Regions from separate parts of the Homo sapiens genome. Here regions 2 and 3 are each reported to be linked to region 1. The links are microRNA targets in miRTarBase. Many come from high-throughput screens and were not tested one by one. Region 1 holds a microRNA gene; each other region holds the end of a gene's coding sequence. Distances are from middle to middle.
What was found. The annotated mature microRNA hsa-miR-624-3p reads CACAAGGUAUUGGUAUUACCU and lies in region 1 at 3,007-3,027, shown strand. An mRNA with a match to its seed (bases 2 to 7 or 8) in the 3' UTR can be bound and repressed. Matches are read on the target gene's strand: a 7mer-m8 pairs with bases 2 to 8, a 7mer-A1 pairs with bases 2 to 7 and ends in A, and an 8mer does both.

Region 1 (4,067 bases):
TCCTACCCCAAAGTTTTGCCTTTTCCAGAATACATTCATATACCTTCCCATGGTATCCTTGGGGGAAATTTGTTCCAGGGGTTCTCCTCCAGGATACAAAATCCTCAGATGCTCAAGTCCCTCAATACAATGAGTTTGTAACTTATGCACATCTTCCTGTATATTTTAAATCTCTAGATTACTTTTTTTTTTTTTTTGAGACGGAGTCTCGCTGCGTCGCCCAGGGTGGAGTGCAGTGGCGCGATCTCGGCTCACTGCAAGCTCTGCCTCCTGGGTTCACGCCATTCTCCTGCCTCAGCCTCCCTAGTAGGTGGGACTACAGGCACCCGCCACCACGCCCGGCTAATTTTTTGTATTTTTAGTAGAGACGGGGTTTCACCTTGTTAGCCAGGATGGTCTCGATCTCCTGACCTTGTGATTTGCCTGCCTTGGCCTCCCAAAGTGCTGGGATTACAGGCGTGAGCCACTGCGCCCGGCCTAGATTACTTATATAATCTAAATGCTATGTAAATAGTTGTTACACTTTTTAAAACTTTTTATTTGAGACAGGGTCTCAGTCTGTCACCCAGGCTGGAGTGCAGTAAAACAATCACTGCTCACTGCAGCCTTGATCTCTGGGTTCAGGTGATCCTCCCACCTCAGCCTCCTGAGTAGCTAGGACTACAGGCACCCGCCACCACACCTGGCTAATTTTTGTATTTTTTCTAGAGACAGAGTTTTGCTAAGTTGCTGAGGCTGGTTTTGAGCTTCTGGGCTCAAGCTATCTGCCATCCTTGGCCTCCCAAAGTGCTAGGATTACAGGTGTCAGCTACTGCACCTGGCTAGTTGCTATAATTTTTAAAAATTATTTTTTGGCTGGGCGCAGTGGCTCATGACTGTAATCCCAGCACTTTGGGAGGCCAAAGCGGGTGGATCACAAGGTCAGGAGTTTGAGACCAGCCTGGCCAATATGGTGAAACGCCGTTTCTACTAAAAATATAAAAGTTAGCCAGGTGTGCTGGCACGTGCCTGTAATCCCAGCTACTTGGGAAGCTGAGGGCAGGAGAATCGCTTTAACCCGGGAGGCGGAGGTTGTAGTGAGTCGAGATCGCGCCACTGCACTCTAGCCTGGGCGACAGAGCGAGACTCTGTCTCAAAATATATATATATATATTTTTATTATTTTTCTGGAATATTTTTGCCTTGCCATTGTTTGAATCTGTGAATGGGGAACCCTTGGATACAGAGGGTTGCCTTAGTTTGAATCGTATAATATGTAGCCTTTTCACTTAGTAGCAGTGTATTTAAGGCTTCTCCTTGTCTTTTCTATGGGTTGATTATTTCTTTTTAGTGCTGAACAATATTCCATTTATGGATGTGCTACAGTTTGTTCACCTTTTGGAGGGTATCTTGGTTACTTTCAAGTTTTGACAATTATGAGTAAAGGCTGTAAACATCCATGTGCAGGTTTTTGTGTGGACGTATAAGTTTTCATGTAATTTGAGTAAATACCAGGGAGTGTGATTGTTGGATCATATGGTAAGATTATATTTAATTATGTAAGAAACTGCCACATGATCTTCCAAAGTGGCTGTACCATTTTGCATTCCCACCAGTAATGAGTGAGAATTATTATTGCTCCCCTTTCAGCTTTTGGAGTTGTAGTGATTTGGATTTTAACCATTTTGGTAGTTATGCAGTGGTATCTCACTGTTTTTAATTTACATTCCCCTAATGAAAAACAGTATTGAAGCCAGGCATGGTAGCATGTGCCTGAAGTCCCAGCTACCTGGTGGAGGAGTGAGATGGAGGATTGCTTGAGCCCCAGAGGTTGTGGCTACGGTGATCCATGATCACCCCACTGCACTCCGGCCTGGGTGACAGAGTGAGTCCCTGTCTCACAAGGTTCTGTAGAGGCCTGCTGGGAACAGAACTGAACTTCTAAAAGTAAATGTCTTGGCAGCTGCTTTCCAAGGCCTGGCTATAAGTAAGGTCTGCAGAGCCAAAAGGAGCATACAGCTCTTCTTAAAATTGAAGGTGTTGGCTGGGGGCACGGTGGCTCATGCCTGTAATCCCAGCACTTTGGGAGGCCAAGGCGGGTGGATCACCTGAGGTCAGGAGTTCGAGACCAGCCTGGCCAGCATGGTGAAACCCTGTCTCTACTAAAAATACAAAAAATTAGCTCGGTGTGATGGTGCATGCCTGTAGTTCAGCTACTCAGGAGGCTGAGACAGGAGAATTGCTTGTACCTGGGAGGCAGAGGTTGCAGTGAGCCTAGATCGTGCCATTGTACTCCAGCCTAGGTGATGAATGAAACTCCGTCTCAAAAAAAAAAAAAAATTGAAAGTGTTTAAGCCCAAGATGAAACTGAATTCTATTTAAGAGTTGTGCTTATGTGTATAAAGCAAAGAATAACATAGGCAAACGGAACAAAACTATAGTAATTGGGGAAACGCAACTCATACCTGTGGAAACCAGTGGCATGGTTTGTGTCAAATTCTGAAGCAGCCTTCCTGGTAAGGCTACTGGACACAGAATACCCTTCAAGGAAACTAATGAAAAGTAAATAAATAAAAGTGGGTGTGAGGCTGGACGCGGTGGCGCTCACGCTTGTAGTCCCAGCACTTTGGGAGGCCAAGGCGGGCGGATCACTTGAGGTCAGGAGTTTGAGACCAGTCTGGCCAACATGGTGAAATCCTGTCTCTAGAAAAAAATACAAAAATTAGCCGGGCATGGTGGCGCATGCCTGTAATCCCACCTACTTGGGAGGCTGAGGCAGGAGAATCGCTTGAACCTGGGAGGTGTAGGTTGTAGTGAGCAAAGATTGCACCATTGTACTTTAGCCTGGGTGACAGACTGCAGCCTGGGCAACAGAGTGAGACCCTGTTTTTTTTTTTTTTTTTAAAGTGGTTTTGTGTTCTTGTAATGAAAAAGAAAAAAAGGTTAAAAAAGGATGTGCTTTTGACCAATATATAATGCTGTTTCAAGGTAGTACCAGTACCTTGTGTTCAGTGGAACCAAGGTAAACACAAGGTATTGGTATTACCTTGAGATAGCATTACACCTAAGTGGTTTCAGTGAACAAGATTTAAAAGACTAGAATTAAAGCAATTATAAATGTAAAGTAAAATTTTGGACTACTTTTAGATAGACTTTATAAACAGACGTAAAAATTCCTATTAAAAATTTTGCACTTTGGCCGGGCGCAGTGGCTCACGCCTGTAATCCCAGCACTTTTGGAGGCTGAGGCAGGTGGATCACAAGATTAGGAGTTCGAGAACAGCCTGACCCACATGGTGAAACCCCGTCTTTACTAAAAATACAAAAATTAGCAGGGTGTGGTGTCAACGCGCCTGTAGTTCCAGCTACTCGGGAGGCTGAGGCAGGAGAATCACTTGAACCCGGGAGGCGGAGGTTGCAGTGGGCCGAGATCACGTCACTGCACTCCAGCTTGGGCAACAGAGCAAGACTCTGTCTCAGAACAGCAACAACAACAACAATTTTTGCACTTTCAGGACACTTACAGGCTCCTTCCTATAATCCCAGCACTTTGGGAGACCAAGGCAGGAGGATAACTTGAAGTCAGAAATTCAAGACCAATCTGGGCAACAAAGTGATACCCTGTCTCTACAAGAAATTTAAAAAATTAGCTGGACACAATGGTGTTGTACCTGTAGTCCTAGCTACTCGGGAAACCGGGACGGGAGGATCGCTTGAGCCCAAGGGGTCAAGGCTGCTGTGAGCCATGATCTCACCACTGCACTCTAGTCTGGTCAATAGACTGACACTCTGTCTCAAATAATAATAATAATAATAATAATAATAATAATAATAATAATAATAATAATAATAAAATTGCTTTGAGAAGCCAAGGCAGGAAGATTGGTTGAGGCCAGGAGTTCGAGACCAGCCTGGGCAACATAGTGAGACCCCCCCCGTTTCTACAGAAAAGAAAAAATTTAGCCAGACATAGTGACATGCACCTGTATTCCTAGCTTTGGAGGCTCAGGGGAGAGGATTGCTTGAGCCCAGGAGTTTGAAGTTGTAATGAGCTATCATCACACCACTGCTCTTCAGCCTGGTAAAAG
Region 2 (4,067 bases), 38 Mb from region 1:
TCAATGGGACACAACCAGGCTCTTGTGGCCACCACACATGGGCCTGGGTTACCTAAATCCCAGCCTGAGTGAGTTCCCCAGGGAGACACTTAGGTAGAGGTAAAGGGTTAAGACCCGGGGACATGGAGCTTCCCCACATGATAAGGAGTCTCCCCTGGGCTTTACAGCCAACCCCCACCCTCCAGGGCCTCCAGTAGTCAATGTCTCTATCTTGGTTAGACAAAGTCAAAGGACTGACTCAGTCAAAGGACTGTCTCCTCTAGAGGAAATTCAGGGCTGGCCAGGAGGTACGCCTGGGCCTCTAGGAACCTAACCAGCGTCACCATGAGAGGGGAAGTTAGAAAGGTGTCTGCCACATGCTCAGGTATGCCTGCAGGGAATGAGCTCAAGGTGAATGATTAAATGTCTTTTTTGCTTTTACTCCGAAAGGAAGATCACATGCCACCACCAACCACCACCACCACCACCTCCACACACACACAAAGTTCATTTCCTCCTTAAGGGACAAGAGGCCTAGGTTTACTCCAGTCCTAAGAAGGGCTGCTTTTCCCCTTCCTAAACCACCAGCCCCTGCCCTGGAACAGGTAATAGTCCCTATTTTTCTACCTCACCCCCTGACCCCCAGTAGATATCTGATGACCAGGGAAATGAGTTGAGAGTAGAGGTAGGTCTTCGAGTCTCAGGGACATCCCTGGCCTGCCCAATGTCTGCTGCAGACCTTCGGAAGAGGCCTGGTGGAATCATGGTGACTCAGCTGAACTCCCAAAACTTCCTGGGTGTAAAGGAACCAAAGGCAAGTGAGCTGCAAATAGCAATCTCTGCCTCTCCCCAAATAAATCCTCCCAAGGCTCACACTCAAGATTTGTGAAAGTTCCAACTCCTCCGGCGGGTGAAATGCCACCTCTTAAGTGGTCATCTAGCCTTGGTGGGGGTGCATCTAGCCAAGGAGACCCCACCTTTCCCAAGATGACGACATACCTAATTTTGCATAGCACCTGAGATTGTAACTAAGGTGGTGGGAACCCTTGGTGACTTGCTGTGTTGTGTTGGCCAGTGTTAACACTCACTTCCCCTTAACAGCCCTCCAAACCCAAAAGGCTATGTCAAATCCAGTCCCAGTTCCCAGTTCCTTGTGACTGAGCCCCTCACCCCGCTGGACATTCCTCTCCAAGCAGGCAGTGCTTCCTTATACCCTCCCCACACGGGTAGGTGTTGAGAGGCCAGTACTGAGGTAAATTTCTTTCTTATGGGCAAAATGAGCCCAAGGCACCCCAATAAAAGAACTCACTCAAATCCAAGCCTGCAAGTGTGCCAAGTGCTAGGTCCTCTTTTATCATTTTGGCACCCCAAACACCATCCAAAGGAATGAAGAGCACAGGCTGGACGGGGCGGACTGGAAGGCCCTGAGCCTTGGCTCCCCAGAAGAACCGCAGAGGCCACACAAGTGTCGGCAAGGCTGGGCCCGCTGCTATTCAGCCAACAACTAACACACTGCACAGTCTTTTCAGAAGTAATACAGCAGGAAGTACAGGCTCCTTTGCAGAAAACCTCCACCCCGTCCCCTCTAAGCGCAGCAAACTGCCAGCATCAAGGAAGGGAGCTATAGGCTTAGCTTATAGGGATGAGAGATGCCGCCACCCACAGCCACAGCCCTCTCTCTCCGCCTCCCCCTACCCAGGACTTGCAAGGTATACAAGGGGAGAACCTTACTGGCAAAGTCAAACCAAAACCAAGTAAAACCAGCTCCACCATCAATGTTTCTTGAAAAAACGGGGTTTATTGATTTTTAAACTGCAAATAGTCGTTACAAAAAGTTTTTTTTTCTTTTAAATAAATTCACACAAAGAAAGAGAAATAGAAAGCGACGGTAGTGACCAGCAAGAGGAATAATAATTACATTCATCTTAATGTGTGTGTGCCAGTTCTGTTTACATTAACATTGGAAAACTCCAGACCTGGAATCCAGAACCTCAAATCTGTGAGTGGAATGTCTTGAGATGGGCACGTGGAAGTCAAAGGGTTTCTCTTTTTTTTTTTTTCCCCTTTTAGAAGCTATACATAAAAAGTTGTTTTCCTTCTGTACTGTCACAGAACTTTTACATACATTCTCAGTCCTAGTTGTGAAAGGCCTAAAGAGAAAGAAACTCAATTTGCAGTCCAACACAAAGGGGGGAATTTCTAAAATAAATAATCCAACAGTTTTTTGCATTTTTTTAAATTAATTTTTCATTTTTTTAAAATAAAATAACCAAAAAAGTGTAAAGTTACAAAAAATGTCGTTGAAGAATAATATATTAAAACTGTGGAAAAAAAGGAAAAAGACACGTCACAAAATTTTAAGATTAATATGAAGATCATAATTTAACATAAAAGAATATATTCTATGGATTTGTCATCCCGATAAATATGAACAAAATTAACAAAAAAAAGCATAGTTTGGCAATAAATACGTTTTGATAAGTTAAATAAGCTTTTTTATATTGATGTGCAGTGACAAGCAAAATTTTTGCTCTCCAATTTCTGAAAGTTATATGAAGTTTAAAACCCAGGGAAGAAAGCATGGCGTGAGTGCTCTAAGGATAGACCTACGGTATTCTAGAGCAAAAACCATTAAAGCTACTTCTACAGGAAATCGTTTTACACAGATATTGTATGTGGAATGAATACCATTAACTGCTCACCCCTTACTTTTTTTTTTTTAGCTTTTCTCTCATTTTTTTTTTGTTGTTATTTTTTTTAAAAAGATGTCACATATGAACTGGGGAACTTTAGCACCAAAATCAAGTCTCTCCTAGTCCATCTAGCTTCCCCTTCCTCCCCACTTAAAAAAAAGAAAAAATTAAATCACAAAGTCCCACTTAAGTCAAAATCTTCGTCCGCTTTTTCAGCCTTCCTTCCTGCAGACCTACACAAACCCAGGCAAGATTAGTCAACAGGGGTTCAGATCGGGAAGAAAAAGGTTTTGAATGTCAAGACAGGTTTCCCCCAAAACCCTGGTCTGGCAACAACTCTTCCAAGGGGCAGGGGTGGGGGGGGTGGGGGGGCGGGTACAGGTGGAGAGGTGCCACCGGGAAGAGGGGAGGAGGAATAAGTGTGCGGGAGACTGAAATGAGGGAAGGTGCAGTTGTGTCGCCAGTGGAGGGGGCTGCTGGTTCCGGGTCTCCACCCCGCCATGGGCAGAGGCTCCGGGAGGCCCACGGGTGCCCTCTGGCGCTGAAGAGGTAATGTAGTCACAGTGACAAAGTTAGATTACAAGGCACTAAGTTGCTTCTGTAAACTGTTACTGCTTTTTCTCTTGTGATTTGGCACTTAAGGCTTAAGCCGGAAAAAAAAAGGCATCTACTGACAAAATATGGGACTTGTCTGTTATGCATGGTAAGTGGGCTATAAAATCCAGGGAGGGGGTTTCAAGCCAGAAGAAGCTACTGACAAATTGACTTGTCCTTATGTTAGGTGGGGTTATGAGGGGGAGAGGGAGGGCACATTCTGAGGTGCTGGGGGAAAGGGGTTGAGCTTAACCTTGTTAATGTAGGGCCTGTGGGGAATGGGATGGGTAGGGAGAAGAGGGTATGGGATGTGGGTGCAGGGTAGGGGCTGGAGTAGGCAGGAGGTCCCTCCCTACCCTGGCTTAGTCATCTGAGATGGAAAGTCTGCTGAAGATGGGCAGGCGTCTTGAGTTGTCCAAGGTCGGGGAGTCTGAGCCACTGTGGCTGCTGCTGGAGCTGCTCAGGTAGCCCTCCTGGTCCGAGAGAGAATCCTGAGGGCTGGGGGGAGAGTCAAACATGTGAGGGGACTCGGACATGGGCCGGAAGAGGAAGGTGGTCGGGGAGCCACCCCCGGGCAGCCCCATGCTAGGGGCAAAGAGGCTTGCCAGCTCCTGGCTGGAGAAGGCAAAAGGGTTATTGGTGCCATCGGGCAGGGTAGGTGAGCCCAGGAGGTCATCGGCGCTCAGAATAGGGGGTGGGGTGATGGACGTGGGGCTGTCCAGCAGCCCGGTGGCAGCGGCGGTGGCAGCGGCACTGGGAAACCCAGCAAAGCTAAAGCTATGCTGGAGGCGGGGACGGTCA
Region 3 (4,067 bases), not on the chromosome of region 1:
CTGCATCGTATTCCATGGTGTATATGTACCACATTTTCTTTATCAAGTCTATAATTGATGGGCGTTTGGGTTAGTTCCATGTCTTTGCTCTTGTAAATAGTGCTGCAATAAACATACATGTGCCTGTGTCTTTATAGTAGAATGATTTGTATTCCTTTGGGTATATAACAAGTAATGGGATTGCTGGATCAAATGGTATTTCTGATTCTAGATCCTTGAGGAATCACCATACTGTCTTCCACAATGGTTGAACTAATTTACATGGGCCCTTTCTTTCTTAATGTAAATATGCACAAAGACCATATTACTTCCATTTTACTTAAACTCTGGCAAGTACAGGTGCCATAAAACCTATGGAGTGCTTGAAAGGGAATCATTCTCTTTGCTTTCTCCTCATTCTTAGATTATTTGTTTCCCAGTTTTCTTCTTAAAAAGAGGAACTGAGCTGAGGCCTAGAGGTTTTCTGTGGTGGATCAATATGTGCCATTTGTGGGCAGGACTCCACAGTGGGTCACCACTGAAAACAACAGTTCAGTTCCTCATGCAAATGCACACAGACAAGCTGAATTGAGCTTAATTTGGGGAGAAAAAGCAACAGAGAAGATCCTTTAGAATGCATTTGTGAACTAGAATTAGGATCTTTAAACGACAAATTCCTAGAAGGAAAACAAAACAACAGCCAAGACCACTTTTTGTAAACCTTGCTCAGCCACCCCTTAACTTTGTAGCTCTCATCTACCACTATACACAACAAGGTCAAAGCCAAAGAGGTCAGGTCATGCAATACAGGAAAATAGAGGTTTAGAGTTAAGAAGAATCTACCCATGACTCTTGAAACTCCACAAAGAAAACAAAACACCCCAAAAGGGGTGAGTGGCAACCTTTGTTCTGAATTCTTTAAGGGGGTTCAAGTCATTAGAAGCCTTCTCTAGACTTTTTGGTACTGCATATGGCAAAGGGGGAGGAGGTATATGGTGCAAGAAAAGTAAACGAAAGAACATTCGTGTTTTAAGACAGGAAGCAAACACAGAAACCAAGTGCATGGGTTTTTGGTTCTTTTTGTTTGTTTTCTTCTTTTGCAGCTGCAATGAATTTTAGCCAAATTAGAGAGGTTTTGTTACCCGTAATTTTGAATTCTCACTTGGATTTGACCAAGTCAGGTAGAGTTGGTCAAGTCTGATGGGAGAAAGACCAAAACAAACAACAAAATCTCCAACCATAGGATTACCAAGCACTCTAATGATAAGGAGAAATTAAGAGCAGCTAGCTGGTTGTTAAACTTTAGCCCAGACAAAGCCCCAGTTCAGCTACTTACCTAGGGATGGGTCTCAGGCTGAAGGCTGCTTTCTACCACCCTAGAAGCAGGAAAAAAACTCAAACTGGTCTTCCCTGCTGGGAGTGAGCTCAAACTCTACATGCCTTTCATCATCATGGAAGCAGGAAATCTTGCCTTCCTTGTAAAGGAAGTAAAAGTAAATCTTGCCTTCCTTATAAGGAAGGCAAGTAAGCAAGTAAAACTCCAAAAACAAAAATAGGTGGGGCAGTTGTACAGCAAAATGAACTTTAGTTCTTCACCAAATTTGGGGAGATCAGGGATTCTTTGGGGAGGGTGCTCCCAGACCTCAGCAAATTGTCCTATTGATTTGAGCCATAAAGTTAGCTCATGCTATTACCAGGCACCAACAGGATATTCGTCAAAGGTCAAGGGCATCTCCACTCAGAATCCTTTCACAGTTACCAAAATGTTAACCCAGAAAATCTGAGACAGGTCTCAGTTAATTGAGAAAGTTTATTTTGCTAAGGTTGAGGATGCTCCGGTGACACAGCCTCAGGAAGTCCTGATGACATGTGTGTAAGGTGGTCAGATAACACTTTTGTTTTATACATTTTAGGGAGACATGAGATATCAATCAACATATGTAAGATGAACACGGATTTGGTCCAGAAAAGGCAAGACAACTCGAAGCAAAGGCGGGACAACTCGAAGCTGGGAGGGGGCTTCCAGATCATAGGTATATAAGAGACAAATGGTTGCCTTCTTTTGAGTTTCTGATTAGCCTTTCCCAAGGAGGCAATCAGTGCATTTATCTCAGTGAGCAGAGGGGTGACTTTGAATAGAATGAGAGGCAAGTTTGTCCTAAGCAGTTCCGAGTTTGCCTTTTCCCTTTAGCTTAGTGATTTGGGGGCCCCAATATTTATTTTACTTTCACAGCCTCCTAACCTTATTTATCCTGCCTCATGTTTAAGAAGGCATCATAACTCTATGACTGAGATCTGGACAACATTTTTCTTAAGGCATCTGAAAAAATATGAAGCTTATTTTTCATATTTGAACATATCTGAACAAATCATCTTAAACTTGATTGGCTCAATAGCTTAAGGCCATTTCAGAGCTGATAATAGTCAAATAAAAGTAAAAACATCAAGAGCAGGTGCTCCTACTAGAATGCCAAGTTATAGTCACTTACCATATTCTTTCAGATTCAAATGAAGGCACCTCTCTTGGAAATTCTAATTAGGATATGCACCCCAGCTGCGACCTACTCAAGACTGAACTAATTCCAATAAAATAATTCTTAAAAAGAAAAGCGAGCCTTGAAATTTTCATCCTTTCTGGGTTTATATATATTAAAATGTTAAGTGTGGAGTTGTTTAAATTATAATGTAAACCCGTAGAGACCACAGTCAGCAATATACCATGCTATCCAGATGAACTACAGCTCAATATGCTTTTTTGTCTCAGCAGAACTCACTGGGAAATAAAGCCCACTTTTTGATTATAAATTCCAAAATGTTGTTATTGAGTAAAATGAATTCAGTACATGAAATTCTTTATAGAAGATTTCCCTTCTTTCATTGGTGTCTAATTTTCAGAAATTTGGTTTTATCTTTTTTGTCAAAACAGGGACGATAGTATTATGAGATATAATGTGTTAAAGATAAAATGTGTTTCAAGAGCTAAGGTATGAATTAAAACTGTCTTAATTTAGGATATTAAGACACATGTGCACACACACACACACACATACACACACATATACACACAGCACTTCTATTCCAATACCGTAAATTATCTATATTCGATATAGCATGTATTTTCAAAGTGATTTCAACACGGGTTGCTTTTCCTGCGTCTTTGTGTAAAATATAATTGTCAGGGAATCAGTAAAATAATTATGAAAGCAATAGAGAATGATACCAATGAATTCTTATGTACAGAAATTTTATTAAAAAGCAGAGATGCAACAAAGCATAAGAAATTCACACTAGGAGAAACACAGAATATAACTGGGCGGCTGGATCTGAGGGTGCAACCTCAGTGACAAAACTGGTCCTGCAGATAATGTCTGCCTCACTGAGAAGAAGATCTGTACCTCAAAGTGATAAAGAAAATGAGGAAATTAGAGGATTGGAATAATTTCTAGCTAGTGGATTACAAATTAATTCACATTTGGTGCCACCACCGGAAGAAAAAGAAAGCAAGGGAGGGAGTTTAAAATGAATCAGAATGTTCTCAAAGAGTCAGTGAAATGGTGATGGGCTCATTGGAAACATGAGTTCCATTCTATTGAATGACATCAACCCCACTTCCTGTATCCTAATGGTCAGCACAGTAGAAGGGTCTACATCTGTGGGCCAGTGGTGAAGGGGGAGATAAGCCAGGGCAGTGGGCTCAGCAGCAAGAGGAGGCACAGCACAAGGGGCGGGGGCAGCTGGAGATGACACAGGTTGGGCGATAGCAAGTGGTGTGGCAGGAGACTCGGCCACAGACTGGACGCACGCAGCAGCAGGGGCGGCAGCAGCTGGATTCACAGCAAGAGGGGCGGCAGCAGCTGGAGATGCTGCAGCTGGGGCGGCAGCAGTTGGGCTGGCAGCACACAGACTGGCAGCACTGGGGCTTGCAGCAGCTGGACACACAGCAGCTGGGGCGACAGCAGCTGGAGATGCAGCACCTAGGGTGGCAGCAGGTCGTCTCACAGCAGCTGGGGCGACAGCAAGTGGGTTGGCAGCACGCAGGCTGGCAGCACTGGGGCCTGCAGCAGCTGGACACACAACAGCTGGGGCGG

Region 2: the mRNA of ZFP36L1 is a reported target of hsa-miR-624-3p. Seed matches in the 3' UTR shown: 7mer-A1 at 3,251-3,257.
Region 3: miRTarBase lists KRTAP4-9 as a target of hsa-miR-624-3p. The part of its 3' UTR that is shown has no 7-base or 8-base seed match.

What each region holds. Positions count from the first base shown.
Region 1 is chr14:31,013,629-31,017,695 of GRCh38, reverse strand. MIR624 (microRNA 624) reads left to right here and starts at 2,954; the gene lies at 2,954-3,050. The region is part of intron 1 of STRN3 (striatin 3); the gene reads left to right.
Region 2 is chr14:68,785,905-68,789,971 of GRCh38, forward strand. ZFP36L1 (ZFP36 ring finger protein like 1) reads right to left here. Exons shown (of 2, transcript NM_004926.4): 2 at 1,758-4,067. The coding sequence ends at 3,629. Among named protein-coding and RNA genes, the nearest start is that of ZFP36L1, 5.1 kb to the right of the region's middle. RefSeq lists silencers at 212-281, 302-351 and enhancers at 628-922, 1,212-1,391, 3,824-3,883, 3,894-3,973.
Region 3 is chr17:41,105,628-41,109,694 of GRCh38, reverse strand. KRTAP4-9 (keratin associated protein 4-9) reads right to left here. Exons shown (of 1, transcript NM_001146041.1): 1 at 3,207-4,067. The coding sequence ends at 3,674. LOC124904002 (a long non-coding RNA gene) reads right to left here and starts at 1,463. Exons shown (of 2, transcript XR_007065754.1): 1 at 1,316-1,463.